4 linked regions of the Homo sapiens genome follow. The protein of the gene in region 3 interacts with the protein of the main gene of each other region in a pairwise test. Each region holds a gene or a part of one and is shown on either strand. Other genes may lie near its edges. The genes, in order: TXN2, WASF1, ABI3 and NHSL2.

Evidence for each region.
Region 1: the proteins of ABI3 (region 3) and TXN2 interact in binary tests that used the Homo sapiens proteins (3 or more experiments, as listed by UniProt).
Region 2: the proteins of ABI3 (region 3) and WASF1 interact in binary tests that used the Homo sapiens proteins (3 or more experiments, as listed by UniProt).
Region 4: the proteins of ABI3 (region 3) and NHSL2 interact in binary tests that used the Homo sapiens proteins (3 or more experiments, as listed by UniProt).

Annotation. Positions count from the first base shown.
Region 1 is NC_000022.11:36,477,892-36,487,096, forward strand, and holds the start of TXN2 (thioredoxin, mitochondrial precursor), read right to left. Parts: upstream 3,750-9,205; 5' UTR 3,673-3,749; exon of another isoform or gene 3,252-3,672; intron 2,947-3,251; coding exon 2,684-2,946; intron 1-2,683.
Region 2 is NC_000006.12:110,105,787-110,114,406, forward strand, and holds part of WASF1 (actin-binding protein WASF1), read right to left. Parts: intron 7,675-8,620; coding exon 7,540-7,674; intron 2,896-7,539; coding exon 2,742-2,895; intron 1,409-2,741; coding exon 1,291-1,408; intron 1-1,290.
Region 3 is NC_000017.11:49,220,707-49,223,725, reverse strand, and holds the end of ABI3 (ABI gene family member 3), read right to left. Parts: intron 1,657-3,019; coding exon of another isoform or gene 1,636-1,656; coding exon 1,501-1,635; intron 1,175-1,500; coding exon 1,011-1,174; 3' UTR 501-1,010; downstream 1-500. UniProt on the Homo sapiens protein: May inhibit tumor metastasis. In vitro, reduces cell motility.
Region 4 is NC_000023.11:72,144,158-72,152,777, reverse strand, and holds part of NHSL2 (NHS-like protein 2), read right to left. Parts: 3' UTR 1-8,620.

The sequences.
Region 1 (9,205 bases), on a different chromosome or scaffold from region 3:
TTTGGGAGGCCGAGGCAGGCGGATCACCTGAGGTCAGGAGTTCAAGATCAGCCTGGCCAACATGGTAAAACCTCGTCTCTACTAAAAATACAAAGATTAGCCAGGAGTGGTGGTGTGCGCCTGTAATCCCAGCTTCTAGGAAGGCTGAGGCAGGAGAATCACTTTAACCTGGGAGGCAGAGGTTGAAGTGAGCTGAGATTGTGCCACTGCACTCCAGCCTGGGCGACAGAGACTCTGTCTCAAAAAAAAAAAAAAAAAAAAAAGAGAAAGTGTTTTATTTCACCCACAGGCTACTCTGATCCCACAGCCCCTGAGTTGACCATTATCACTGCCCTGATCATAGGTATTCCCCTCTCGCTGGGGAAGCTCATCCAGGACAGGCCTGGTGCTGTCATCTCTATGTATGTGGCACCAAGGAAAGTGCCTGGCACTGAATGAACAACTCACACCACCCCACTTCCTTACTGAACAAAATGAGGCATTATCCCATTTATTGTTCATTTCGGAAGGCCTCTCTGGAATGCTCACTACACCAGGAGGCCAAGACAGTTCCACCTTTCACAAACCCCTGGCTGACAACTCCTATTTTATTCTCAGCACTTACTTATTTATTTTTGAGATGGAGTCTCACTCTGTTGCCCAGGCTGGAGTGCAATGGCGCGATCTCGGCTCACTGCAACTTCCGCCTCCCGGGTTCAAGCAATTCTCCTGCCTCAGCCTCCTGAGTAGCAGGTGTGGTGGTGCACACCGCACCCAGCCAGGCCTGACGGTTTTAAATGCTGAAAAATAGGCCGGGCATAATGGCTCACACCTGTAATCCTAGCACTCTGGGAGGCCAAGGCGGGAGAGAATCACCTGTGGTCAGGAGTTTGAGAGACTAGCCTGGCCAATATGGTGAAACCCCGTCTCTACTAAAAATACAAAAAAATTATCTGGGTGGTAGTCCCAACTACTTGGGAGGCTGAGGCAGGAAAATTGTTTTAACTCGGGAGGTGGAGGTTGCAGTGAGCTGACTGAACCACTGCAGTCCAGCCTGGGTGACAGAATGAGACTCTGTCTCAAAAACAAAAAAGGAAAAAAAACCCTCAGGCCTGGCGCAGTGGTTCATGCCTGTAATCCTAGCACTTTGGGAGGCCAAGGTGGGAGGATTGCTTGAGATCAGGAGGTAGAGACTGCAGTGAGCCGTGATCGCACCACTGCACTCTACATTCTAGCCTGGGTGACAGAGTGAGACCTTGTCTCTAAAAGAAGAAAAACAAAAACAACTCATAACACTGAAAAACCCAGTGTGCAAGACCTTATCTCCTATTACAAGTGAAGAAAGGGAGCACAAAGATATCAAGTGGCCTGCCCAAGGCCACAGGGTGAGTCAGAGAAACAACTGGAAAGCCAGCGAAACAATCTGTCAGAGACCTGACCAGAAGGCCCTTCAATTTCTTTTTCTTTTTTTTTTTTTTTGAGATGGAGTTTCCCTCTGTCACCCAGGCTGGAGTGCAATGGCGCGATCTCAGCTCACTGCAACCTCCACCTCCCAGGTTCAAGCGATTCTCCTGCCTCAGCCTCTTGGGTAGCTGGGATTACAGGTGCCCGCCACCACGCCCGATTAATTTTTGTATTTTTGGTAGAGATGGGGTTTCACTATGTTGGCTGGGCAGGTCTCAAACTCCTGACCTCAGGTAATCCACCTGCCTCGGCCTCTGAAAGTGCTGGGATTACAGGTGTGAGCCACTGCGTCCGACCTGAAGGCCCCTGAATTTTTAACTTATGCTACACTGGTTTCTCCCAGGATGCCTCATTCAGAGGGCTTTGTCCAGCTTTTGTGTAGTTGGGTGTCTAGCCAGGCCCCAAAGATCTAGAAATGAAAAAGCCCAGGCTAAAATTCAGAAGGCCAGAGGGACTTAAATATCTCTAAAGCAAACTCAGATAGCACTGAAAGGAAACTCCTTCCTATGCCCTGTATGCTTGGGCACCACGGTAGTGACACCGATAACTTTTTTTTTTTTTTTTTGAGATGGAATTTCACTCTTTTTGCCCAGGCTGGAGTGTAATGGCGCGATCTTCAGCTCACTACAAACACTACCTCTTAGGTTCAAGTGATTCTCCTGCCTCAGCCTCCCGAGTAGCTGGGATTACAGGCACACACCACCACGCCTAGCTAATTTTGTATTTTTAATAGAGACAGGGTATCACCATGTTGGCCAGGCTGGTCTTGAACTCCTGACCTCAGGTGATCTGCCCGCCTTGGCCTCCCAAAGTGCTGGGATTACAGGCATGAGCCACCGCACCCGGCCGACACTGATAACTTTTTGCCAGCCCTTCTTGCGGTTTTCATGGCAGGATGTTAACATCAGCTTATCTGCAGGGCCAGGAACTGGTATACACCAAAAGCAAGGTGACAGTCATATTTTTCCAACTCTGGTCCATGCTAAAGATGACGCTGAGCTTTCTGGGGATTGAGAAACAGAACATGTGTTTCCCAGCACTAACAGTCAGCTTTGCAGACTGTTCACTTGTCTGTCTTCCACCAGACTGCATTCCCCTTGAGGGCAGGGACTGGGCCTGACCAGTCTGTATATTGAGTCTACATATGAGCAGCATAGAACATGGCCGTGGGACACAGCAGGCATTCAATAAATACTTGAACAAGTAGGACCCTAGTCTTCTGTGGACCCCCAATACTCACTGTGCGTGGAAATCCACAACCACTGGTGTCTCACTGTTGACCACTCGGTCTTGAAAGTCAGGTCCATCCTGGATATTAAAGGTTGTCAAGGAGATCCTCGTGGTGTATATTGTCCGGGCTGGGTTGGGTGTTACAGTCAGGCCACCAGGACTGCATTGTGGGGTCTGCAGGGCTCTGGAAGTGAGGGGTGGCCACTGACCCTGAGAGGGCTTCCTGGAGATGACAGAGGCCAGGAACCTCCTCAGAAGAAGTCGCTGAGCCATCTGTGAGGGAAAGAGGCAGAAGAACTGGGGCACACAAAAGGAAGTCGACACACTAGAAAAAGATTTGGGGAGTACTCAGGGCTCAGGAAGAGGCAGAGTTGGAAGCAAAATGCAAGGAAATCATATGTAAGATTTGTAGCGTGGAAGTGAGGAAGCAATGAGAATCAAAGGGAAGGAACAGCTAGGCAAACCAGAAGGACAGGAAAACTGGCTTCACAACCAAAAAGAAATCGGGATTTAGATTATAACGGAAGAATGGGAGGAAGAAACCAACAGATTTAATAATGTATGTAAGGACCAAGTACCTTACACACATTATTGGTCTTCCTACAGCAACTTCCAGGAAGTTGCTATTGTACTGCCCACACTGCGAGTAAGGGAAGGAATACGAGGCTCAAGTAAGTTAAGTGACATGCCCAAAGTAACCCCGCTATTAAATGACAGCCAACACTGGAACCCAGGGTCGTCTGAAAAGATGAAACGCAACAATTCAAGGAGGAACTAAGAGTGTGAGAGGAACCAAAAACGAAGAGACATGTACTGGAGGGAACCAATAAAGAAGGGACATGTGTGGAGGGAACTGGGAAAAATCGGACATCACCAGGGACCCTGGCTCTCCGGCGAGCTAGATCCCCCCGCCCGCCCGGCCGCCAGCCTGCGCAGGAACGCGCTCGCGGCATGCCTCAGCCGCGACACCACCTCGAGCCACCCCCACAGGGCTCCTACCTCCCTGCAATGCGAGCGGAGGGATGCACAGCCTAGCCCTCCCTGCCTGTCAAGGGCACGCCTGTCGTCACTTCCTCGGGGGGGGACGTACATAACGTCACTTCCGGGTACAGGCAGGCGGAAGAGCGTCCCTCTCCAATTTTTTTTTTTTTTTTTTTTTTTTTTGAGCCAGAGTCTCGCTCTGTTGCCAGGCTGGGGTGCAGTGGCGCGATCTCGGCTCACTGCAACCTCCGCCTTCCGGGTTCAAGCGATTCTCCTGCCTCAGCCTCCCGACTAGAGGCGCGCGCCACCACGCCCAGCTAATTTTTTTATTTTTAGTAGAGACGGGGTTTCACCACGTTGGCCAGGACGGTCTCGATCTTTTGACCTCGTGATCCGCCCGCCTCGGCTTCTCAGAGGGTTGTGATTACGGGCGTGAGCCACAGCGCCCATCTGTCCCTCTCCAATTTGAGGGGCGTCTGGGATTTTCCGCCAATGGGAATGGCGGGCTGAGGCACAGTTGAAGGGGCGGGGCCTCAGCTACGGACCGGAAGCAATGGGCAGGCCGTCGGGGAACGGATTGGAAGAGGCGGGCGGGCCCTGGTCTGGGCGAAGGCGGGGGCGGGGCGGGGCGGAAACGGAAGGGGTGGGCGGGCCCTAGAGGAGGGACCGGAAGAGGAGGTGATGGAGCAGGGGTAGCAATGGAGGGTACTTAAGGGAGAAAAGGCAGTTGAGAAGTCCCCGTGGTTTTGGATTTTGCAAACTCTTGTTGCTTTATTTTATTTACATATATTTATTTATTAATGACAGAGTCTCGCTCTGTCTCCCAGGCTACAGTGCAGTGGCGTGATCTCCGCTCACTGCAACATCCAAATCCCGGGTTCAAGTGATTTTCCTGCCTCAGCCTCCCAGGTAGCTGGGATTACAGGCGCGCGCCACCACGCCGGGCTGATTTTTGTATTTTTAGTAGAGACGGAGTTTCGCCATGTTGGCCAGGCTGGTCTGGAACTCCTGAGCTCAAGTGATCCGCCCGCTTCAGCCTCCCAAAGTGCTGGGATTACAGGCGTGAGCCACCTTGCCTGGCCTCCTGTTTATAACTGGCGCTGTCCACTTCCTACAGATGTTGACAGGTTCTGTTTCTCCATTTAATATGTAAAGCTAAGCTCCTCAAAGGCATGATGCCCTTTATATGTAAAAGAACTCAACCGGGAGTTTAGGGGCCATCCTTTAAGTGGCCCTCGTCTGTGTCCGCCTAAAGGAAAACAAATGAAAACTGAGGCGAGCCTAATTTAAGCAGGGAGTTTTTTTGGGTCAAGTTCGAAGACTGCAACTCGGAGCAGAGATTCAAGTTGTCCTGAATATACACTCGGATTAGCAGCAGCTGAAAGAGCGTTTTTAAAAGAACAGGCAGTTTCCAAATTGTTGATCAAAGTTTTTTTTTTTTTTTTTTTTTTTTTTGAGACAGAGTCTCGCTCTTGTTGCCCAGGCTGGAGTGCAGTGGCGCGATCTCGGCTCACTGCAACCTCTGCCTCCTGGGTTCAAGGGATTCTTCTCCCTCTGCCTCCCCAGTAGCTGGGACTACAGGCGTGCCTCACCACGCCTAGCTAATTTTTATATTTTTAGTAGAGACGGAGTTTCACCATGTTGGCTAGGATGGTCTCGATCTATTGACCTCATGATCTGCCCACCTGGGCCTCCCAAAGTGCTGGAATTACAGGCGTGAGCCACTGCACCCAGCCTTTTTTTTTTTTTTTTTGAGACGGAGTCTTGCTCTGTAGCTAGGCTGGAGTGCAGTGGCATGATCTTGGCTCACCGCAACCTCCACCTCCAGGGTTCAAGGGATTCTCCTGCCTCAGCCCCCCAAGTACTTGGGATTACAGGCGAGCACCACCACACCTGGCTAATTTTTTATATTTTTGGTACAGAAATTTTATATTTCACCATGTTGGCCAGGCTGGTCTCGAACTCCTGACCTTAAGTTATCGCTCGCCTCGGCTTCCCAAAGTGCTGGGATAACAGGCGTGAGCCACCGCGCCTGGCCGCCCTGCCCATTTTTGTATCGGTTTTCTGTGTCTCTAGCACTTTCTTTTCCACAGCCACCTATCAATCCTATTCAGCACTTCCACAGTATTTTCTAGAGAGCCAATTTTCCTGCCTAATTCACATTCTGAATTTCACAGGCGGACCAGTCCTGTTTGTCCTTATGCCATAGTCACTTCACCCTGATCGGCCTCAGGCTTCTCATCTGAGCAATGGGAAGAATGCCTTTCTCATAGCTGGGCTGAGGGTTGCAGTAGAGACAGAATCCACATCATTGCTGCCTGATGACTCCTGCAGGGAAAGCCTGAGAGACACAGAGAAGGCTGAGCTCTCGGCGCGCTACAAAAGGGCTCTCAGCTACATGGTGGCTCCTCTGTCCAGCTAGAGCTGAGCTGGCCTGGGTCTGGCTTAGTCACAAGCAGGCTCAGGGCACAGCTGAGAGGCAAAGGGAAGGAAGCCAGGACTGGCAGCCTGGGCTAAGGGTAAAACTTCTACCTCCTACCAATATTTATTGCAGTGTTTTTCAAACTGCAGGATATGGACGTCAGTGGGTTTGCAAAATTAATTTAGTGGGTGGTGATCTGCTTTTTAAAAAAACAAACATGGTGCCAGGCGTGGTGGCTCACACCTGTAATCCCAGCACTTTGGGAGGCCAAGGCGGGCAGTTCACTTGAGGTCAGGAGTTCGAGACCAGCCTGGCCAACATGGTGAAACCCCATCTCTACTAAAAATACAAAAATTAGCCAAGCGTGGTGGTACACGCCTGTAGCCCCAGCTACTCGGGAGGCTGGGCAGGAGAATGGCGTGAACCCGGGAGGCGGAGCTTGCAGTGAGCCGAGATAGTGCCACTGCACTCTGGCCTGGGCGAAAGAGCAAGACTCTGTCTCAAAAAAAAAAAAAAAAAAAATAGCTCTAAGGTCTTGCACTAACCGGTATGACCTGTCTGGCGTCTTTACAGGCAGTATTGGAATGTTATAGGGAGACATACAGGGTTTAAGAAATCCATCACGGAGAAGACCTTCAATTATCAATTATAGGTTTTAAATTTACCTCGGCTTTGAAAGGAATAGGATACATTGCTTTCTCTTTACTACTTCCCCAGGGGTTTGTAATTTAACATGAAACTGAGTAATCTGTAACTTTCCTCGATTCTCGTCTTTTGACCATACCTTGGGATGAATGAGTTCTTTGTCTGTGGTGGGGAGCAAGTTTAGGGAGGGGAGGAATCTTCCCTGATTAATATAGAGGCCTAAGCCAAATTTTAGCATTAAATCTCTCTAATAGGTTTGTTCCTGCCTCTGGAATAAACAGAAATTTAATATTAGCTGATTTGCTTTTATATATGACTTTTGTTCTTTTTCCCATTTGGGACATTTTCTTTTGAAGTGACCTATTTTTAATCTGAAACATTTATTTTGTCCTCTTTCTCTCCCTTTGCCTCTCCCTCTCTGCCTCTTTTTCTCTCTCACTCTTTCTCTTTGCCTCTCTCTCTGCCTCTCTCTTCCTCTTTGACTCTCTCCCTTTGCCTTTCTCTCTGCCTCTCTCTTTCCCTTTTTGCCTGTCTCTCTCTCTTTGACTCTGTCTGTTCTGTCAGTCTTTCTCTCTCCTCTAAGTTTTTTTTTTCTTTACTTTTGAGTCTCCTGGCTTTACTCTTTCATACTCTATATATTGCCTGGAGAGTGGGGGTCTAGGTTCTTTTTTTTTTTTTTTTTTTTTTTTTGAGACGGAGTCTCGCTCTGTCGCCCAGGCTGGAGTGTAGTGGCGCGATCTTGGCTCACTGCAACCTCCGCCTCCTGGGTTCACGCCATTCTCCTGCCTCAGCCTCCCGAGTAGCTGGGACTACAGGCGCCCACCACCATGCCCGGCTGCTTTTTTTTAGTAGAGACGGGGTTTCACCGTGTTAGCCAGGATGGTCTTGGTCTCCTGACCTCGTGATCCGCTCGCCTTGGCCTCCCAAAGTGCTGGGATTACAGGCGTGAGCCGCCGCGCCCAGCCCTCAGTCTAGGTTCTTTATAGGTTCTGGCCCCCTGGGTACTTTGTTGTATGGTAGACAGCAGAATTTTTGCCTTCTGCTTTTGTTTTTCATCATCTTTTCTTATATATACCTTTTGGGCTTCTCTTAGAAGCTCTTCTATAGGTTTATCTTTCCAGTTCTCTATCTTTTGTAATTTCTTGTTAATATCTGGCCAACTGTTAGTGACAAAATGAAGTTTTAACATTCCCTGCCCAAGAGGATCCTTGAGACCTAGACCAGTGTATTTTCTCATTTGTTCCTTTAATCTATCTAAAAATTCTATAGGCCCTTCATCTTTCCCTTGCTGTATATCAAATATTCGGGTAAGATACTGAGTTCGGGGTACCAATTTTTTTTTTTTTTTTGAGATGGAGCCTTGCTCTGTTGCTCAGGCTAGAGTGCTGGAGTGCAGTGGCGTGATCTCGGCTCACTGCAAGCTCCGCCTTCTGGGTTCACGCCATTCTCCTGCCTCAGCCTCCTGAGTAGCTGGGACTAAAGGCGCCTGCCACTATGCCCAGCTAATTTTTTTGTATTTTTTAGTAGAGACGGGGTTTCACTGTGTTGGCCAGGATGGTCTCGATCTCCTGACCTTGTGATCTGCCTGCCTCGGCCTCCCAAAGTGCTGGGATTACAGGCGTGAGCCACTGCGCCCAGCCTCGGGGTACTGATGCTTTAATCCCCTTTATTATCAATTCCTTAAGGTCCTGCATATTTTCTCGGTGGGCTGCGTTGTTATTGTCCCACTGGGGGTCTTGGGTGGGAGTTTTTTGATCTGCTGTAGGAACGTTTTGGCCAGGAGGGTGTTCGTGTTCCTAGGCTCCCATAGCAGCTCTATGGATCATGTCTCTTTCTTCCCCCGAGAAGAGGGGAAAGGGAAATTCTGAATATCTTTTTTACATTGCTCTATCTCACGTTGAAGTCCTTTAAGGGAAAGGTACTTAGGTCGGTAGTGAGTGGGCTCTTGGGACGATTCTCAAGAGGCAGGGTTGTAAGAAAGGGGACATCAGAGATAGGAGAAGGGTCTGGGACAGCAGCTGCTTTTGTTTTTGGTCCTTTCATTATCCTTCTAACATTTTAACATTAGGCCTGGGGGAATATTACTGTTGCTAGCTTTCTCCTTTTTATCTCTTACCTTACTTGGGGCATTTCCCATCTTGGGTCCTGGTTAAGCTCAATCTCCCCTGTTGGAGATGTCTCGCCTATCCTTTAGCCCCACCTGCTGGAGGCTCCTTGCATTCATGCACACTTTCAACCCCCAGAATATCCTGACCACCAAGGAAATACTTTGTCACCCCTGCGATGTTTCTTAGCTTGGTCTCTGCACACTTACTTGGTCGCTGTGGTACATGAGGATCCTTTCCCCCAGGTCGCCAGCCCGTTTCTTTCTGCCTTGCTGAGAGTATAGGTTTATTCGTCACACTGGTTGGTCTCGATTCCTTACCCCTGTGGCCACCGCAACAAGGCAGTGGGACGTGCCTCCTCATGGGAGAGGTCTAGACC
Region 2 (8,620 bases), on a different chromosome or scaffold from region 3:
TTAACCCCTAATTTGAACTGATGCACCAGACACAAAACAGTATGCCTAAAGAATACAATTTGAGGTCAGAAAGTCTTTCAGATGAAAAAAGACTCATGAACCCTTGCTCCACAGGCATTAGTTTGAAATTTCTACGATGAATGGCATTGTCTGCCCCTAATCAAAACGTAACAATTTACTAAGGTTATGTTATCTGGGAAGTAACTGATTAGCTAGCCAACACATTAGAAAAAAATCCAATTATCTAATTAACCGATAATAACTATATCACTCAACAGAAAACATTGTCTTTAAACAATAAAACAAAAAGTGATTCAAAACTGGGGGAGAAAGTACAGAAAGGGCTAGAGTAAGTGTAACAAATTCAAACGCCCAAAGCGGCCAAGCGGATAACATACATGAATGAAGCCAGTCGGGTGTAAGATGGGGCATGAGGTGAGCTAGACAGACATGTCCATCTCAGGCACTCTAGTTCCAAAATTTAAAAACCTCTGTGTTTGGCAAACAAAACACTCCCTACAGGCATAATCTGGCTTGCCAGTCACCAATTTGCAAATGTTAGCTAGAACACTGGGTTACCATCTAGCAAAGAAGACAATACAATGGCATTATACAGGGATTAGGGAAAGCAGAGATAGCTACAGGAGAACCAGAGAGATGATAAAGACAGAATTTGCCTCCTTCATAATTCAACCTAAATCTAACTTTGCTTCATCCTTCTGTGTTTTCAGTTATCATTAACATGAAATATAAAGCAGATACAAGTGAATTTTATTAGAAAGTGGAAAATGACAATAACAGAAATTTCATGTGAATATAATAACCTCTCCAAAACATTTAGGAGAGAAATGTTTAGGATGTGCTCTGTAGCAACAAAATACTAGCTTAATCTACGTTACCAATATCTGTACAAGATTCCATTGCTCCTTACCAAAATGTTCCTCTCTTCCTTGGTACACCTAACTCCTATCTGTTCTTCAAGATTCATTATAAGCTTTGTGGGAAGGGTTTACCCTGCCTGCTAGCTAAAGCAGATGCTATTTTGTGTTATCTAAACCCTTTATGCATACCTCTGCTATGGCACTTATTATGCCCTACTCTAATAATCTAATTGCTCATCTGCTCCCCATCAGACTGTGTTCTTTCTGTGGAGTTATAAAGACTTCAGTATTTAACTATATGGACCCAATAAAATAAAACTGTCAAAATACAAGATTAATGAAGTTCAATATATGCAACAAAACACAAATATACAAAAATTAACCTCAATTTTTTAATCTCTTGTAATACCTTCTGCTTCCTCTTTTCCTTCCTCTTATCCTCTGTATCTTGCAACATTTTTTCTTTCCATAGATCAAAGAAATACGAAGGATTGGTATAAAACTTCAGACCTTCTTTACCATCATCTCTGAAATATAAAATATCAATTAAAACACACATTAGTAAGACTTAGGCAATCAGAATAGAAATAATTTCACTAAAATGTTTATCCTCTTACATTAATAAAATACAGCATGTTAAAATAGTGCCAAAATAAAACTGAATATTGCACCAATAGAAAATTTCTCACAAATATGAGGAAACAAAGAAAAGTGGTAAAGCAGATGCTTTTCCAAGTTAGTACTAACAATTTAAAGTATAGCTGGGCAATTTTCATCCCTAATTTCTGCTGAATCCCAAATTTTCTAAAAAGTCCTTTGGGCAATTCCAATAATTACAAATAGCTCTGCCAAAGATAAAAGCCTGAAAAGACAGTAACATCATCTAGAAGACAGAAATTTTGCAGTTTCTGCCAATACTATGATTTATTTATTATCTTACTAAATCCAAAAGATATCATGTAATAGTCATTCTAACAGTCACATTTATATCTAATTATCTGCACACTGACTTACAATTTCAAATAACTCTCTGAATACTATTTTATTCAGGTTGTGTTGTACATTACCCATTTAACAAACCATGTGAAAGAACTTCAAAGAAAGGCTAAATAATTCCAGATTTTATTCTAAGTGGTAAAAAGCATTTTATAAAGGTACTACCTATTCATTATGTAAGAAGTTAATGTATACAAATCAAATCAAGAGTAGACGAAACAGGCCGGGCGCAGTGGCTCACGCCTGTAATCCCAGCACTTTGAGAGGCCAAGGCGGGTGGATCACGAGGTCAGATCGAGACCATCCTGGCTAATACAGTGAAACCCCATCTCTACTAAAAATATAAAAATTTAGCCGGGCTTGGTGGCAGGCGCCTGTAGTCCCAGCTACTCGGTAGGCTGAGGCAGGAAAATGACATGAACCTGGGAGGCAGAGCTTGCAGTAAGCCTAGGTGACAAAGTGAGACTCCGCCTCAAAAAAAAAAAAAAAAAAAAAAAAGAGTAGACAAAACAAGCAAAAATTATGTTTATTTTGTTAGTAGGACAGAATTTTGAGCTTTTTCCATTTGATTAAAAATTAAATTAAAAGGACAATAATAACTCCTTATCTCTTTACATTAATAAGTTTACCAGTGGCTTTTCTAAACTTGTAAAAACAACTCTTTTAAATAGGTCTTGTCTTTTGTATGCCACAATCTTAAGAATTCATCCAATGAATAAAAGCAAAGGTTTTCCAAAGGTGGTGGACAGAGAGGGCTCTCTGTGTTGGCTAGAACCCCAATGAAATAAAGAATGTTTGGGGATTTAGCATTTCAATCTGAAGTCTGAGATAAATAATAGGGCTACTATTTATTAACCTACCTACCTATAAGGAGTGAGTATATTGAGAGGTGGAGGCTGTTCACAAACATCGTACGTCTCCTGTAATGGAATAGGCAAAGTCTTGCGATCGAAAAGCTGCTGGTCTTGAATTGTAGAACTTCGGAAAGCTTTCCTCATTGTTATATCTTGCAAAGACACTAAAACAAAAATCAAGAATTCATTTTATTTTATTTTACTAAGATGATTTAACATAAGGGCAAATTCACATACTTTATTTGTCTAAAAGTCAGCATGGCTCAAGAGGTTGTGACCTTAGTGGCTTATGAATCAGAAACCATATTTTAAATGTTCTATCATTATATTTACCCATATCATTCTGCGCCTAATTTTCCCAATCAGATAGGTTTTAATTAACCTTTGATTTTGAAGGCTCAGAGGGCCCTAATGACACCTGAAACATATCTACATTTCAACCAAATATACCTTTTTCTTTCTTCTACCTGCCATCATGGGCCCCCACCAACTTAGGTTCTCTTCTCCTATAATCTTCTTTTCCATCTCCCTTTATTCCTTTTTTTAGCTTACACCAGTAACTCTGAAAGGAATTACTTATTAGTGGCACTGTGGGCTAAACACGCTGTTAACCTCTATGCTACATATACTATAAATATTGTATGTGTACTCTCAAGTTAAAACAAACTTTACTGTAAAGGAAATACTTTTAAGTATTAGGTGATCTATATTATTCTCTTTTTCACTTATCTTTTATCTGTACTATAAGGATTTCTACCTAACTATAAGCTCTTGAAGACTCAGACTATCTTGTACATTAGTATTCCCAGTCACTAGCACAGCCCCATCACATACATGATTTAAAAACAACTTCATTTATTTTGAACTGTGCAGCATGTTAAAATAAAAAACATACAAAAATGCTGCATTCTTAATTCTTACACTGATATCCCGATATTAAAAAATAAGGTAATTTCTTGATATTTAATATGGCCTTAAGTATACAGACAAATGCCCTATAACATAGCAAGGTCAGTATAACAATCCTAACAATTCTTTTTTTTTTTTTTTTTGAGACAGAGTCTCGCTGTGTCACCCAGGCTGGAGTGCAGTGGCACGATCTCGGCTCACTGCAACCTCTTCCTCCCGGGTTCAAGCAATTCTCCTGCCTCAGCTTCCCAAGTAGCTGGGACTACAGGCACCTGCCACCATGGCCGACTAATTTTTTTTTTTTTTTAAATTTTTAGTAGAGATGAGGGTTCACTATGTTGGCCAGGCTGGTCTTGAACTCCTGACCTCATGATCTGCCCGCCTCAGCCTCCCAAAGTGATGGGATTACAGGTGTGAGCCACCACATCCAGCCAACAATTCTTAAGTTATCCTTCTCCTTAAAATAATATTCCTGTCATCCCCTCAAGTAAATTCACTCAACATGAACATGGGACCAATGGCACAGAAGGTACAATAGGCTGGCTCTGCAATGGTGGCACCATAATTCCATTTCTAGCAATTCCACTGCTGCATGACCTGTAACACACTTATAAATACTAAAATAAAATTCAGAGAAGCAAAAAGTTTTTCCCCACTATCACTAAAAAGTGGCACTGGAGATACAGTATTTAATGAGTACATACTATATGTGCTAGATGGTTTCACTAAATTTCATTTCATTTAATCTTTACAATTCAGTAAGACAGGAATTATTACTCCATTGTGAAATATAAGAAAGCTAAGGCTAGGAAATAGTATATAACTGACCTGAGGTTAAACAGTTAATAAACAGCAGAGCCAGAACAGAAAAGTCAGATCTGTCTACCTTTGAGGCTAATCTTTTTGCCACAATACCACACGCTGTTCTCAGGCTCCTGCCAGAAGTGGGTTGTGTTTTCTGCAGTCAAAGTGGATCAATTCTTGCCACTCTCCTGCCCCACTTATTAATCAATAAGTATGTAATTAAGATGAAACCTAGTGTTTAATCTCGCCAAACTTCCTTGGTAAAGGATGTAAGAAACATGTAAACTAATAAGCATGATGTACTTTTCTATCTTCAACTCCTCTCATTTATCGTTTGTCTTATTATTAACAGACTATTGTGGTGAAGCTCCTTCCACTTGCCAACAATAACATCTGATATTAATAAAATAGAATTATAAAGCAATAAATTAGCATAATGCTTATAAACATAATTGACTTAAATATAATTGTACAAGTCTTTGTTTAAAATTCATTTAAAAAATATTTTCAAAATTGATAGTTTTTAGTTACTACAAAACGGTTAAAAAAACTGATACCACACTGTGCTATTTAGTACTGTACACATGATGTTTTTTTTTTAATTCCCACTGAATTAAAAAACCTAGGTTAAATAACTGAAAACTCCTTCAATACAACCTCTCCAAAACAATTTCAAATTAAGTAGTTCAGCTTTTAGATTCTGAATTCTTCCCCCACTGCTCCACAAAATTTTAAAGGAAACTAGGTATAATTCTGACAGTATAGCTGTTGACATATTAAAATTTGTTTTTTAACACAAACATCTTAATTTATTTACTGTTATCTGTATTTTCACTTTCAAGTTTAATGGTGGCTCTAAGACATTTGTTAAAATGTAACAATATTTTGAAACTAAATGTTGATTTTTATTTCTGTTACATATGAGAACTGCCTGTGTATTTCTCTATTATTTGATGGCATAAATTTATATTTAAGTGATAAGCAGTTGAGTTATCTGAAAAACAAATTTTGGCTATAAATTATGTATTTGAAAGCATGACCATAAAATATTTTTCACCACTAACAATGATTTTATTTCAAGAATTCCATGAGGTGTAATTAATGTATTGATACATGCACATGTTTCAAAGGATACCACCAAGAAAGACAACCTAAAGAAGGGGAGAAAATATTTGCAAATCATATATTTGATAAAGGATTTAGATCCAGAATATACACAGAATTCCAACAAGTCAAAAATAAAAACACGAATAATACAAATTATAAATGGGCTAAGGAATTAAATAGACATTTCTCCAAAGGAGATATTCAAATGGCCTGTAAGCACATGAAAACATACTCAACATCATTAGCCATCAGGGAGATATAAATACATGCTATATGAATGAACCTTGAAAACATTATGCTAAAAGAAGCCAGTCACAAAAGACCACATACTGTACTATTCATTCATATGAAATATCCATACAGACAGATCCATACAGACAAATCCATAGAGGCAAATCCATACAGACAGAAAGATCAGTGATTGCTAGGGGTTGAGCTGAAGGGGAAACAGAGTGACTGCTAATGAGTACAGGGCTTCTTTCTGGAGTGATACAAATACTCTAAAATTGATTGTGGTGACGGTTGCATAACTTGAATATACTAAAAAACACTGAATTGTACACTTCAACTTTAAATGGGTGAACTGCAAGGTATACGTAGGTTGTGAAATATATCTTAATAAAGCTATTTTTTAAGTATTATTTCCTTTTCTTCTTGTATCCAGAGCTCTGAGTTTACATTTTACAAGTGGTACAAATCTAGTATGCCAAGTATTTGCCTCTCCTTATTTACACATTGGATTATTTCAAAAGTAGCTGGTTCCATCACTAAGACATCTATCATTACATTATATTTTTGTTCTTTCCACTGACATCCTTTAGTATTTTTATTGTTAAAGTTTAGATCTATTATATAATTTGCATTTATACTAAAAATTAGATCTATCATATAATTTGTGTTTATACTATTTAATGCAACAAAAATATTTTGAAGAGAGTGTAAGAAATTCCATTAAACAATTCTCTGTGGTAGGTAAGTGCAAATTATGTTCTTAGTATTGCATTTCTTTTTGTGAAACAAACAAAAAGATGCATTTGGGAAACGTCGGCATTCAATGTATTCTATCAAGGCATAAAACATGATTTTACCACCGAAGTTTCTACAATTATTTTAGCCTATCTGATTATTCCTGATTTAATATCTTGGTATAGAATGTTTACACCCTACATACTGGCAATTTGTTTTTGAAATGTTCATTTAAAGTAGGAAGTTGCATTCAGTTAAATAACTAATAAGACTTTAGCAATATGCACATACAAAAGCATATTAAAAGCAGTTACATAGCCAGGTGTAGTGGCTCATGCCTATAATCCCAACACTTTGGGAGGCCGAGGTGGGCAGATCACAAGGTCAGGAGTTCGAGACCAGCCGGACCAACATGGTGAAACCCCATCTCTACTAAAAATAAAAAAATTAGCCAGGCGTGGTGGCAGACACCTGTAATCCCAGCTACTCAGGAGGCTGAGGCAGGAGAATTGCTTGAACCTGGGAGGTGGAGGTTGCAGTGAGCCGAGATTGCGCCACTGCACTCCAGCCTAGTGACAGAGTGTCTGTCTCAAAAAAAAAAAAAAACAAAAAAAAAACCAGTTACATTCTTGTAGAATCAAACCTAAAGATTTCAGGTAATTTTCTAATAATTTTTATTTCTAAGACAAAAGTATACAAATAAATTATAAGGGAGAAATGAAAAGAGAAAGATAATGAAGAGAATGGAGGAAAATGTCTGGTTAAAATGACTTCTTTATGCAAAAAAATTAGGAGCTGTTTAGTGTACAAAAAGAAGAGATTTAAAACAGAGTAGAAAAGAAAAGCCCGGAGAATCATACTGATGGCATTTTTAGATAATTCACTGATTTATTACAATATGTACACCAAAGGACATGGGTATGATCTGTAATAAATTCATGATTAATACTGTTAAGTATATCATTCATCTCATCTAACTTAAAATATATACGTAGAAGAAAATACAATATTAATAAGCTTACATTCTTCTTCCTTTGGATCAAGCTGTGTAACACTAACAGATAAACGGTCCACACGTTCTTGCAATGAGTTGACTCTGAAGGAAAAACTATGTGCTTCATTGAATAATTCTCCAAATATATCTTCAGCATATTTACCTAAGCAAAAATGACACATATATCATAAAATTTAACATCCAGAGCACTGAGTTTTTATCTTTGCAAGCAGTAGAAATCTAGCATGATATTTGCCCTCAGATACTTTGTGATCAGAGATAAATAATGAACAATGTAATATTACAACTGGTGACCTGTTGAATTTGGAATTTATTTGGAATTACAGTTGACCCTTGAACAAAATCGTTTAACTGTAATAGTCCACTTACATGTGGATTTTTTTCAATAAATACATTGAAAATTTTGGAGATTTGAGACAATTTGAAAAAACTTGCAGATGAACCACATAGCCTAAAAATACTAAAAATTTTAAAGTATATTTTAAAGATATGAATGCATAAAATCTATGTAAATACTAGACTATTTTATCATTTACTACCACAAAATATACAGAAATTATAAAAAGTTAAAATTTATCAAAATTTACACACAAAACAAAAACATACATAGTGCCATTCACAGTCAAGAGAAATATAAAGAAATGGAAAGATATATTAGGTTGGTGCAAATGTAATTGCAGTTTTTGCCAACCTAATAGTACTAAATCATAACAATAAATTTAAGTGTAATACTGTATTACTGTAACAATTTTATAGCCACCCTCTGTTGATACTGCAGTTAGCTCTAGTGTTGTTACTATCCACTTAAAATGCTGTTTGAGCAGTTCTCTCTCCACTAAATTGCATATAAGAGTAGGAAGTAATCTCTCATGGTTCTTGTGTATTTTCCATCATGTTTTATGCAATACTGTAAACCTTGAATACATTGTGAGACTCATTCAAAGTGCCACCAGTGATGCTGGAAGTACTCTCAAGTACAAGAAAGTCATAACACTACAAGATAAAGTTGAATTGCTTGATATGAACCCCAGATTGAGGTCTACAGCTGTGGTTGCTTAGCATTTCAAGATAAATGAATCAAACTTAAG
Region 3 (3,019 bases):
ACTATTTCTGTGCTGTCCACACTCTCTTGCCTCCCGACCCCCGCACTCCCTTCTAGCACCCCCAAAGGAAAAGCCAGAGGAACAATCGCCTCCTGGTGGTGGTACGAGGTAGCGCACCGTCCGGCTCGGGTCCGGACAGCCAGTAACCTCGCAGAGAGTGACGGTGTCTCCTTGCATCCCAGCCTCGTCTATGCAGCAAGAGACCAGGGACTTCACCAAAGTCACCCTCGCGGGCTGGGCCTTCCACGCATCCCCCCCACCCCCCATGGAACAGAAAGCCATGTTTTTAAGCAGAACCAGCGAAACCCAAGCCCCTCCTTCCTCTGGTGTTTTACAACTATAAAGGAGGTGAAGGGGGAAGAAATGACTGAGATCTCTCTCGCGACAGTCTCAGAGTTGACAGTGAGGTGCTCTCGGAGAGCCCCGCTTAAGTCATGGAGATCGTTCCCACTCTTGGGCAAGTGCCCAGCCACATATGAACACACCACACACACAGCAAGCAATGGGCAAAAGAACAAGTTGCAGTCAATGGCTGCAGAGGGGTGTCTGGGGTCCAATGTGGGCTGCACTTTGTGGGTACTGAGGAAATGGGAAGATGCTGCTTCTAGGTCAGCTGGTGGGTTGGAGGTTGGGGGCTGTAATTAGCAGCAGCCTTAGAACTGGGATGCCTTTCAATCCCTCCTGGCCCCTTATCTCTGTGGGGCAGTCACAGGACATCATCTGTTTTATTCAAAGTTGGGACTTGCAGCAGGAGACCCTGTCCTGCATGGAGTAGGGGTCCTCTGTTGACAAACTTCTTGGTTTCCAGCTCTTCCCCATCTGCAGCAGGCCTCTGGATAAATTCTCTCTCCCCAGGACCCCTTCTCCCTCCGATGGGAGGAAGGACAGAACACAGCTCACAGCCCAAGAGGTGGGCAGACCCAGTCCAGCTGTGACTGGAGCTGGTTTTGGCTTGGGGCTCATGAAACCCACTCAGTGCAGACATCAGCTGCCCAGAGAGCCCTGGGCTGTCAGCAGCTGGGCTCCACATAGTTCCCAGGGAAGAATCCAGTCCCCTCTGAGCTGACGCCCTCGCACCAGCCATCGGAGTAGCGGCGAGTGACACAGATGACAGTGCCCTCAGAGAAGGAGAGCTCATTGTCCTTCTGGCTGGTGTATGGGTACAGTGTCACCACTGCAGGGCAAGAGAAGAGGGTGCCGTGAGATAATGCCTCTTGCCCTCTCCCCCTCACCCCCCACCACCATGGGGATGCACGGTCTCAAGTACTAGACTCTAGGGGCCATCTTGGGGGCCTTCTTGCAAGCCTTCAGGACCCCTCCCCAGCTTAGTTAATATTTAATACCAGGCCAGCTGCCCTCTCCCCAGTTCTGTCAGTTCGTCAGAAAAATTGTGTGGGGGGCCCGGGGGATAGATTCACACCTTTGCAGAGGGAGGAGAATGGGGATCAGGGCAACAGAGGAAGTGGGATCCGGTGCCCCTCAGTCCCAGAAGTCAGGTACCTTTCTCCAAGTATGAGGCAGGCACCCAGCTGGGCTCATCAGGCCCAAATCCTGGTGGGGGTGGAGGCAGCCCCAATTCATCTCCATCCAGGGGTGGAGGAGGAGGCAGGTCCAGTGGCAGGGGCAGCTCTTCGTCTTGGGGGAAAAGCAGAAAGGCTGTAAGTGTGGCACAGGAAGCTCCTTCAGTGTGTCAGGGAACTGCTCAAGAGCTGGACCCCAGAATCCACCCATCTCAGCGAGGCACGTTGGGAGGCCAAGGCGGGCAGATCACCTGAGGCCAGGAGTTCGAGACCAGCCTGGCCAACATGGTGAAACCCTGTCTCTACTAAAAATACAAAAATTAGCCGGGCATGGTGGCACACGCCTGTAATTCCAGCTACTCGGGAGACTGAGGCAGGAGAATGGCTTAACCCAGGAGGTGGAGGTTGCAGTGAGCTGAGATCTTGCCAACACACTCCATCCAGCCTGGATGACAGAGTGAGACTCCATCTCAAAAGAAAAAAAGAATGCACCCATTTCATGCAATCTTCCTCCAGCCCTCTCCTGTCCTGGTCTTCCCACAGTGCTGCTAGCACATAGTTAAGTGCTCAGTAAACCCTGAAAGATCCAGCAGTAGAGGACGGTCAGACTCTGCCTCTTATTAGCTGGGTGGCTCTTGGGCAAGTCACTGAACCTCAGCGTCAGTGGCTTCATCTGTTAACGGAGAGTGGTAAAGACCCTCTCAGGATTAAGTTTATTTTGTTTTATTTTTTTTTGAGACCGAGTCTCGCTGTGTCGCCCAGGCTGGATTGCAGTGGCACGATCTCGGCTCACTGCAAGCCCCACCTCCCGGGTTCACGCCATTCTCCTGCCTCAGCCTCCCGAGTAGCTGGGACTACAGGCGCCCGCCACCACGCCCGGCTAATTTTTTTGTATTTTTAGTAGAGACAGGGTTTCACCATGTTAGCCAGGATGGTCTCGATCTCCTGACCTCGTGATCCGCCCACCTCAGCCTCCCAAAGTGCTGGGATTACAGGCGTGAGCCACCACACCCGGCCTTTATTTTATTTTTTTGAGAGGGAATCTCCCTCTGTCACCCAGGCTGGAGTGCAGTGTGGTGATCTCGGCTCACTGCAGCCTCTGCCTCCTGGGTTCAAGTGATCCTCCTGCCTCAGCCTCCTGAGTAGCTGGAATTACAGGCACGCACCACCACGCCAGGCTAATTTTTGTATTTTTAGTCATGTTGGCCAGGTTGGTCTCAAACTCCTGACCTCAAGTGATCCGCCCTCCACAGCCCCCCAAAGTGCCGGGATTACGGCCGTGAGCCACCCCGCCTGGCCCTTAGGATTAAGTTTATTATTATTATTATTATTATTATTATTATTATTATTATTATTATTTTGAGATGGAGTTTCGCTCTTGTTGCCCAGGCTGGAGTGCAATGGCGCGATCTCGGCTCACTGCAAACTCCGCCTCCCAGGTTCAAGCGATTCTCCTGCCTCAGCCTCCCGAGTAGCTGGTATTACAGGCTTGCGCCACC
Region 4 (8,620 bases), on a different chromosome or scaffold from region 3:
CTAAACAGAAGGCATAAAGGAACTGTTTCATGGATGCTTTTAAATAGGGAAATCCTGAAAATTACTTTCATCACTGATTTTTTAAAATTTAGATTTCAGTAAGTGGGTAGATCCCTGGGCTCAAATGACAGAAATCAAGCTAAAGATTCTAAGAAGCAATTTGCTGAGCTAGGATAAGCTGCAGCCTGAGACCTAGGTCTGAGTGGCTGAGTCCACATCAAATTAGAGTGCTAGCCCTCTGTATGTCAGCCTGTTTTGAATTGCCAATGGAAAGAAGGTCTCAAGAGGCAAGAAAGGGCAAATGCTTCAGGAGCCCCCACCATCCCCTTCTTGACCAGTCCCATCAGATCTGGACCTAAACCAGAGAACTGATGAGGGTGCTGGACTGTGTGTGTGTGTGTGTGTGTGTGTGTGTGTGTGCGCGCGCGCATGCACACACGCATGTATGGTGTGATTTGTGAATTAGCCCTCACAGTCCAGGTTGAGAAACCAAACTCACACAGACACATACATATCATCCATTCTTATCCCACAACGTTTATACGAGAAAATGTGAAAATGTGAATCTGAGCTTCAGACTCCCAAGAAGCATTAGAGGTGGAGATGGGAGCAGGATGGAGAGAGACGTGAAGAAGCTTTAGAACAGAATTCATTTAGAGATTCAAAACACAGGAGGAGGTGGTGTGCTGAATGTCTTGTGGCTGTGTTGTTGCATGGGCAATCCCAAGGAGCCCATCCCAGGGGCTGAGGGTCCAGAAGGCAGGGAAAAACTGTGGGCACAGAATATCTTCTGCACCTCATTGGTTTTCTTGCTAAGGCTGAGTGCTCTGTCTAGAACAGGTCCAAACTGCATTAGGAAATGGATACATGGATATTCTAGGTTTAAAAACCAGCCTTTGGAACCTGGTGATTTCCCTAGGAAATCGTAGGCTGAACTGGAATCCTATGGCCTGGGCTGCCAGACTTTCCAACGACAGCCCTAAACTCATGATACTAGTATGAGGCAGGAAAGGGTGGACAAGGGTGGGAGTCTCCAACCACAGATATGAGGGAGAAGTTATGGAACAAAATAAGTAAGAGAACTCAGAAATTCTCTCCTTCCAGTTTATCCCAAACCCAGGGAAGCAGAGGCACATTGGGTAACAAGGATAGGTCTGGGGAAAAAAATGAGGGTTTCTACACTGAGGTAGTCAGTAATGAGAGAGAGAGAGAGCTCATGAAGGACACTCTATTGAAGAGTAATGGTTGGCATATGCAGCCCCCCTCCACCTGCTCCTGTGCAGTCAGTCTGGTCTGACAATGCAGTAGATGGGAAGGCAATAAACCACATCAGCTACTGCACAACTCAGTTATCACATGGGGCAGCTCACAGAAATGCTTGTCTCAGAAGACAGTCTGGATCAGGGGTCAGCCTAAGGCTTTGCATAGCCCATGAGCTAAGAATAGTTTATATTGGCAGGGTGCGGTAGCTCACACCTGTAATCCCAGCACTTTGGGAGGCCGAGGTGGGCGGATCACAAGGTCAGGAGATCGAGAACATCCTGGCCAACATGGTGAAACTCTGCCTCTACTAAAAATACAAAAAAAAAAAAAATATTAGCTGGGCATGGTGGCACGCACCTATAGTCCCAGCTACTCGGGAAGCTGAGGCAGGAGAATTGCCTGAACCCGGGAGGTGGAGGTTGTAATGAGCCGAGATTGTACAATTGCCCTCCAGCCTGGCTACAGAGAGAGACTCTGTCAAAAAAAAAGAGAGTGGTTTACATTATCCAAAGGTTGCAAAACAAACGAATGAACAAACAGCAACAACAAAGAAGAATGTGCTACAGAGACCACATGTAGCCCACAAAGCCTAAAATAGTTACTGTCTTAACCTTTACAGAATTTGTCAATCTCCCATCTAGATGATGGGGGAAACCTCACCAATCTCTGGTGAGAAGCCTCTAAGCATCCTCGAAAAGAGAAACGAGAGGAAGTCCAGGAGAAACAAGGGAACAATGGAAAATAAATGGAAATGCCAATCAATTTGACTAGTGTGGCTCTAAAAGATGCATGGCTTGCAATTCCACAGAATAGTAAGGTATGCATGTACTAAGGAAGGAGGCCCCAACTAAAGAGAGAGCCACACTAAGGAACATTAGGCAAAGAATGTTCTGGAAAAGAGACTGCATGCGGAGCTTAGTACTGATTAGGGAATTCTGTTATTGTTTGATAAGATGGAGCTGGAATTTGAGCCCAGGGATTGACAGAATATCAAGCCAGGTGAAATTTCTAGAACACAACTAAATATCTCATGAGCATTTAACAGTCTGAAAATTTCTCATAAAGATTAAGAAGGGAAGGCTAAAGTAGACTCTGGGAAAGCTAATATTGGTTGGGTTGTACCCTACTTTTAAATAAACACCAAATACAAAAGTTTGCACTAAAAAAAGTAGAGACATTATGGGACAATGACAAGAGGAATCTCGGTTTTTCAAAAAGAAGTCACCAGAAGGTTCCCTTACATAGGAAGTTTACCTCTAAAAAATGATACTTGATATCTAAAAAACTCATTTTTCACACAACTTTTAGGGAAAACATCCATTGTACTAAGTAGGGTGCACATATTGAATTTGGAGGGAAACTAATGTTTATAAACTGAAAATCCAATTTGTCTTTGGATTAATGAATTAAAGAACTCTTGAACATTTTCCCTTAAAGCATATATATTAGTTCATTGAAATACCTGGGAAATTCATGTGTCATAAAAGTAGAAGCCAGCTGTGGGTCTTCTATAAATTGTAGTGCTTTAAATGAAACCAGATTGGGCCCAAGGGCAGGAGACCTGGAATTGAGGCTGGGCCCCACCACTGACTCACTGTGTGACCTTGTATATAAGTTATTTGACCTTTCTGGGCCTCAGCTTCCTCATGTGTGAAATGAGAGAGGTTGGTCCCTTTCAGCTCTAACATTCCAAGACTGCAGATAAATATAGAAATAAGATAAATACAACAATCTAGAAATAAGAAATATAGCCCAAAGTAAGCTTTGGAGTCAGTAGAAAAAAGTAGCAGTGAAATATAATAAAAAGAATAAAACTTTAACCACTAGCCAGGGTAAATATATCTCATTTAAAAATGAATGAAAAGGTTTGTAATTTACAATTCATCAGAAGACCTCAGCACATACATATATTGATATTTCTTCGCCATGATACACATGGGGGAAGGAATGAGTTTGAGGTGACTTGTACAATGAGCACAATGCTGCGTTTGCATGCACAACATTTTATAAAATTGGATGTTAGAAAAAGCTCAAGACCACCTAAGGAATAAATGTCTATAAAGCTTGGCATTACAAAGAGGCTGAGAGGGGTTAACTAGTTGTTCCAGTTCAGATTTTGTTTTGGAGTTCGTTGCTATCAAATTCTACTATTTAGGCAAAAATCTTAAAATCAAATATACTTCTGCCAGAGCCTTACTGGAGAACAGCCACCACGGTAAAGACAGGTATTTAAGAGCTGGCAATACCAAACAAACTTAACACCTTTCCCTTTTTTCCATTTGTGAGTTAAAAAAAATCTTTTTTTTTTTTTTAAACCCAAAGCAGGCCAGATGGGCTGGCTAAGTCTAATCAAAGATTTTGCAGGTTGAGCAATTTGTTGATCCAATATGATAAGTTCTTTTTAATTTTTTTCGAGCATATGCACCGGAGTCCCATAAAACATGAGACTCCTCAATCTGATAATTTCTTAAAACCAAGCAAACATATGCCTGACCAAGATAACAATATACACCTCTTGGCCAGAGACTGGTCCTTATGATGAGAGCCAGAATAATGGTAAAGGTTGGAATCAGTTGGAGAGTCGTGGCTATAGTGATTCAGGGGCTTGAAGGAGTAACATCACTGGAATGCACATACACACACACACACACACACACACACACACACACACACATACACTCTCTCTCTCTCTCTTTCTCCCTCTCCAGGGATGCTGCTGTTGCTGCTCCTGGAACTGCACTTTGAGAACCATTGGCCTAGATTTTGGGCTTTACTGAACAAAAGTATAATGCCCATTTCACATTGCTCATTACTCATGCAAATTTCTTCTTGCTAACCTTATTAAAAATGCCCCAAATGTGTGTCTATAACTATTTACTATGTATTCCTCTATAAATCTGTTTCAAAGTATTCTAAAATTTGCTTATTTCATATTATGTTTATATCATTATACTTTTTGCTGCCTTTTGACAAAGGCACTTCCTTATACATCTTTCCCACTCTCTTATCCTTTTAAATCCCTAATATCCTTGTCACTTGTAGCTGAAATACATGCAAAGCCTTTGAAAGGATTGGGGGCTGTGGTATAGATATAGTCTCATTTTCACACCAAGCTGGACTGATAGCCCATAACAGAGATGAAGCAGGGAAAGCAGAAGCTTGTAAAGGTAAGCTTATTGGAGGTAAAGTTGTACCTCCAATAAGTTTAATAATCACCACCAATACTGGACGACTGACATTGATTGGACATGGATTGGACAGTTTCACCTTTCACAAACAGGACATATTTTCACAGACTCTTCAATTCCTTGTGTTCTTTACTCAAATGGTAAGTAGTATTAATTCCATTTATGTAAAAATGTCAATGTACAATATGAATGATCTAGGCCTTCTCAGTGGCTTTTAGTAGCCATTTCTGAGAGTCCCTTGGTAGTAACCATATTGAATAGCATTGGATATCAGGACAATTTAATTGACCATCAGCTAGTAACTCAAATGATTCCAGGCGATTAAGATATTTTCTATATTCTGGAGTTAGGCGTCAGGGAATTTGGCCTTTCCATGGTGAAAAATACACTTCTACAACTAGTTGATGCCTAACATTCTGCAAGTAGAACTTCATTCCATTGGCTTAAGGCTTTTCCCTTGTTAAAATGCAACTGACCCTCAAAAGAGGTAGCATTAAGCCTTATAATCTCAAAGTAAATGAATTTATCCCTTTCCTGAGAGCAGGTTTTTCTTAGGAGGAGAAGGAAGTAGGAGGCACTGAAGAGAGTTGGTGCTGGGAAGCAAGGTTTAGGAGAATGGAGCAGAAAGAGGAGAGGGAGGATCCTGGTGACAGACCGTCAACTCAGTCACTCTTTTGTTGAAGGGCTGGCCTTGGGAGCATCCCTGCTGAAATGGGTGTTAACTTGCCACCTGGAGCATATTACTTAGAAATCAACTATGTTTTCCGATATTAACACTATTAAAGATTCTTTAATGTATAGGCACACAAAGACTTATAGCAATGGAAAAATAGGTAGCAATAAAATATTTGGTGCAACAAGAGATAGGGAGTTAACCCCCGACCCCAAATCAGAAGGACTATACTTGTTCATAGGAAGAAGATAAACTGATATTACTTTAAAGAGTGCAAATCACAGGGCTGGGACGAGGGTAAGGCACTTGCATGGCCCTGAGAGCGGGCACCTCTTTGAATTTTACGCCCTAGGTGCCTCGCTCACCTCACCCTAGTCCTGGCCCTAGCAAATCATATTAAAGCGAAAGCTCACCATTGTGTCACAGACTTGATAATGGAAGGTGGAACGAGTGAGGAACAGAGCACTGAGCATGAACTCATCTTTTTCCCAACTTGTTCATTGATGAGGAAGAGGGCAGGTGCGTGGACAGATCTGCTCAGACTGACAGGTACAGAGAGACTGCAATCGGGTCTGTGTTGTCCAGATAGTTACACTGGATGTCAGGTGCAGTGCTTGTTAGGAGAGCCTGGTAGGATCTCCTCTGTCTTTGCACGTTCAAGGTAATTTATCCAGATCAACTGGTCAGTTTGTGGTCATTAAGCTAACATTAATTATTTTGCTTCCTGTTGTCTCACTTCCTTTATGGGTGAGTTGTTGTGCTAGGGATGCAGTTCATGGGATTTGGGGCTGAGGGATAAGTTGGGGCTGAGGAATAAGTTGGGGCTGGTGGGGGAGGCCCAGTCAGGAGCTGAGGCAGGCCAAGTAGTACAGGATAAGGAGAGGAGACACCAGCAAAGCTTGCTATTGTACCAAGAATAACTACCCTCAAAAACATGTACTGACTACCCACCAAATGCAAAGCATCCTTGGTTAACAATTAACCTCCGCTCCTGGGGATGGTGACTAGATCAAAGTCAGGCTAGCAGAGCCATCTGTTGCTACTAACTGGAATGGGGAGGAAAAAAGAGGATAGGGACGACTTGAAATGGAAGCTGAGCTCCTAGGGCCAACTTCATTTCACTCAAATCTCTTCTCTATTCCACCTTCAAAAATTATTATCATTATTATTTATACTAGTAATTGTAGTAGTGGTGGGTTCTCTGCAAGCCTTTCTGAGAGGGGCTTTCAGCCTCTCTTCTCCAGTCTCAGCAGCGTAGGTGCAGAAGGCAGCAAACATTGTGGTAAGTGCCTGGGTGGGAGAGAGAGTGGAGTTATGATAATCAAAGGTAGGAGAGAGGTTGAGTGTTAGGAGTGGGGAAGATGCTTTGTGTTCTGTTAATTAGTGATTAGTAGAAATTTTACAGTTTGGTTGTTTATTTGGGACGTCTACCTGTTGCAAAATATTAAATGAGGCCAGGTGCAGTGGCTTACTCCTTTAATCCCAGCACTTTGGGAGGCCAAGGCGAGAGGATCGCTTGAGCTCAGGAGTTCAAGACCAGCGTGGGCAACATAGCAAAACCCCCATCTTTACAAAAAATTAATTTAAAAAATTAAATGAATACTTCCGGTCTTAAATGTTCTCTCTGACCATATGATTTCTGCCCCAAATCCTCTTGTGCTAATGGGAACACCACTGCGTGGGCCACAGTGATGATGTAGAAGATATTCTAAAAATTCCAGGCATATAGAGTATTGTAGAGGAAAACAAGACTAAAGGTAACTGACAAACATCAAGGTGTCTGAGAATTCAGGTTCAGAATCTTTTGGGAAAACCTCCAGAGGTAGCAAGGTGAGGGGAGAGGCAAAACCCATTAGAAGTAGTAAACAAGAAACTTCCAGAAAAGTCCACAGAAGTAACAAGGCCTATACTATGTGAGTCCCATACTCAGCTTTAACGTTCAACCAGTCATAATGGTTCCCAAGGAGACCCTGGTGTCCTTTCATTTTTGCTAAGCAAAAGCACAAACGCTCCTTCATTTACTACAGAGGAAAATGTCTGTTTTTTGGAATTCTAAGTCTGGAGCAGACAAATGTGGCATTCATATATAAACTGAGGCCAGGGATGAATTGATTTTATTTTGGGCAAAATCCCTGGAATTTGGAATTTGGTTAAGAACTTCACACCAAGTAGTTCTAGTACTTTCAAAAGCAACTGAGCCTAGCTGTTTTATTATTTTAAGTGTCGAAGTGCTGGTTGCAAGGGAGTTGGTGGGCCTGGCCTGTTTCCAGAAGTCTCAGATTCAGAACTATAACAACAAAGGGCCTAGGCCTAGGGCTTCTCTTGTGAGAGGCCCAAGTTTTCTCAGTACTTAGTGTGGTTTTTCAGCTGCTCTGTCCAGCTGGAGTGTGGGCAGTTGAGCTAAAAGGTGGCTTCTCATTGGGCAATACGACCTATCAAAGTTGAGATCTGCTTGTCTCTGGAACCTTACTGCATCCTCCAGGAGGTTGACCATTGAATCTATTGGGTGAGGGGTGAAGTAGGAAGGGGCTGGGGAACTCTCTTTGTGAAGCAGGCTACAATTTCATTCAACTGTTCTTTTTGCCTCTTGAAGACAGTAGACAATTAACTTTCCATCATTGGTCAGCAGGTTTTCTTTGCTCAGTGCTTTGTCTTCCTCCCCAACCTCCCAGAAATCAGGCATACAAAAATCAAATGAATCACTGCTCTTGCTCTGCTTAGAAAATTGAGCTGACAAGAATAGTTAGTGCCTATAAGCTTCGTGGGGGGTGGGGGCAGGGAGGGGTCGCAATGATTATTCTGAAGCTCTTTCAGTATGCCATTTACCCAGGTTCTTATGCTCTCCCCCAGCAAGGTTAATTGAAAGCTGGTCAAACACAGAACCTAAATGGCAAAAAGTAGCCCTTTTGTGTGTGTGTGTGTGTGTGTGTGTGTGTGTGTGTGTGTGTGCATTATGGGCCATAGCAACTGGCAAGACTGCCTTTTAGATTTTGGATAGATCCTTTTAGTTTATATGTTCTTGGTTTTTGGAACAGAGTCGGACTTCCTTTAAACAAAACCAAACCAACCACAAACCACGATCTGAATTGACTGGTGGGGGGCAAGATGCACTTACTTTCCATTATCCTTGAGCCTTTGATGATGCTGTTCCTTCAGTTAATTACTTCCTGTAATGAATTTTATATGCAAATGAAATGAGAGTTCTTAGAATGCAGCATGAGCTGGGCGCAGATCCTGCCTATCGCTGTTGACAGACACATGGAGGATCTCAAGGTGCACTTGTGAGTTACCTCGGCTAGATCTGAGTGAACAAATGGCTGTCTTGTTTGTTGGTCAAGCTTGGTTCATTTAAAGCAACCCAGTCCTGGTCTTTTCTAGCTAATGGGGGTGGGTGGGGGGGCGTCTATATGTTTATTGAAACTTATCACCCTGATCTCCATGTAGACAATCAAACTGAAAAAGGCATTAAGTTTCAGGACAGAGTCACAGTCATATT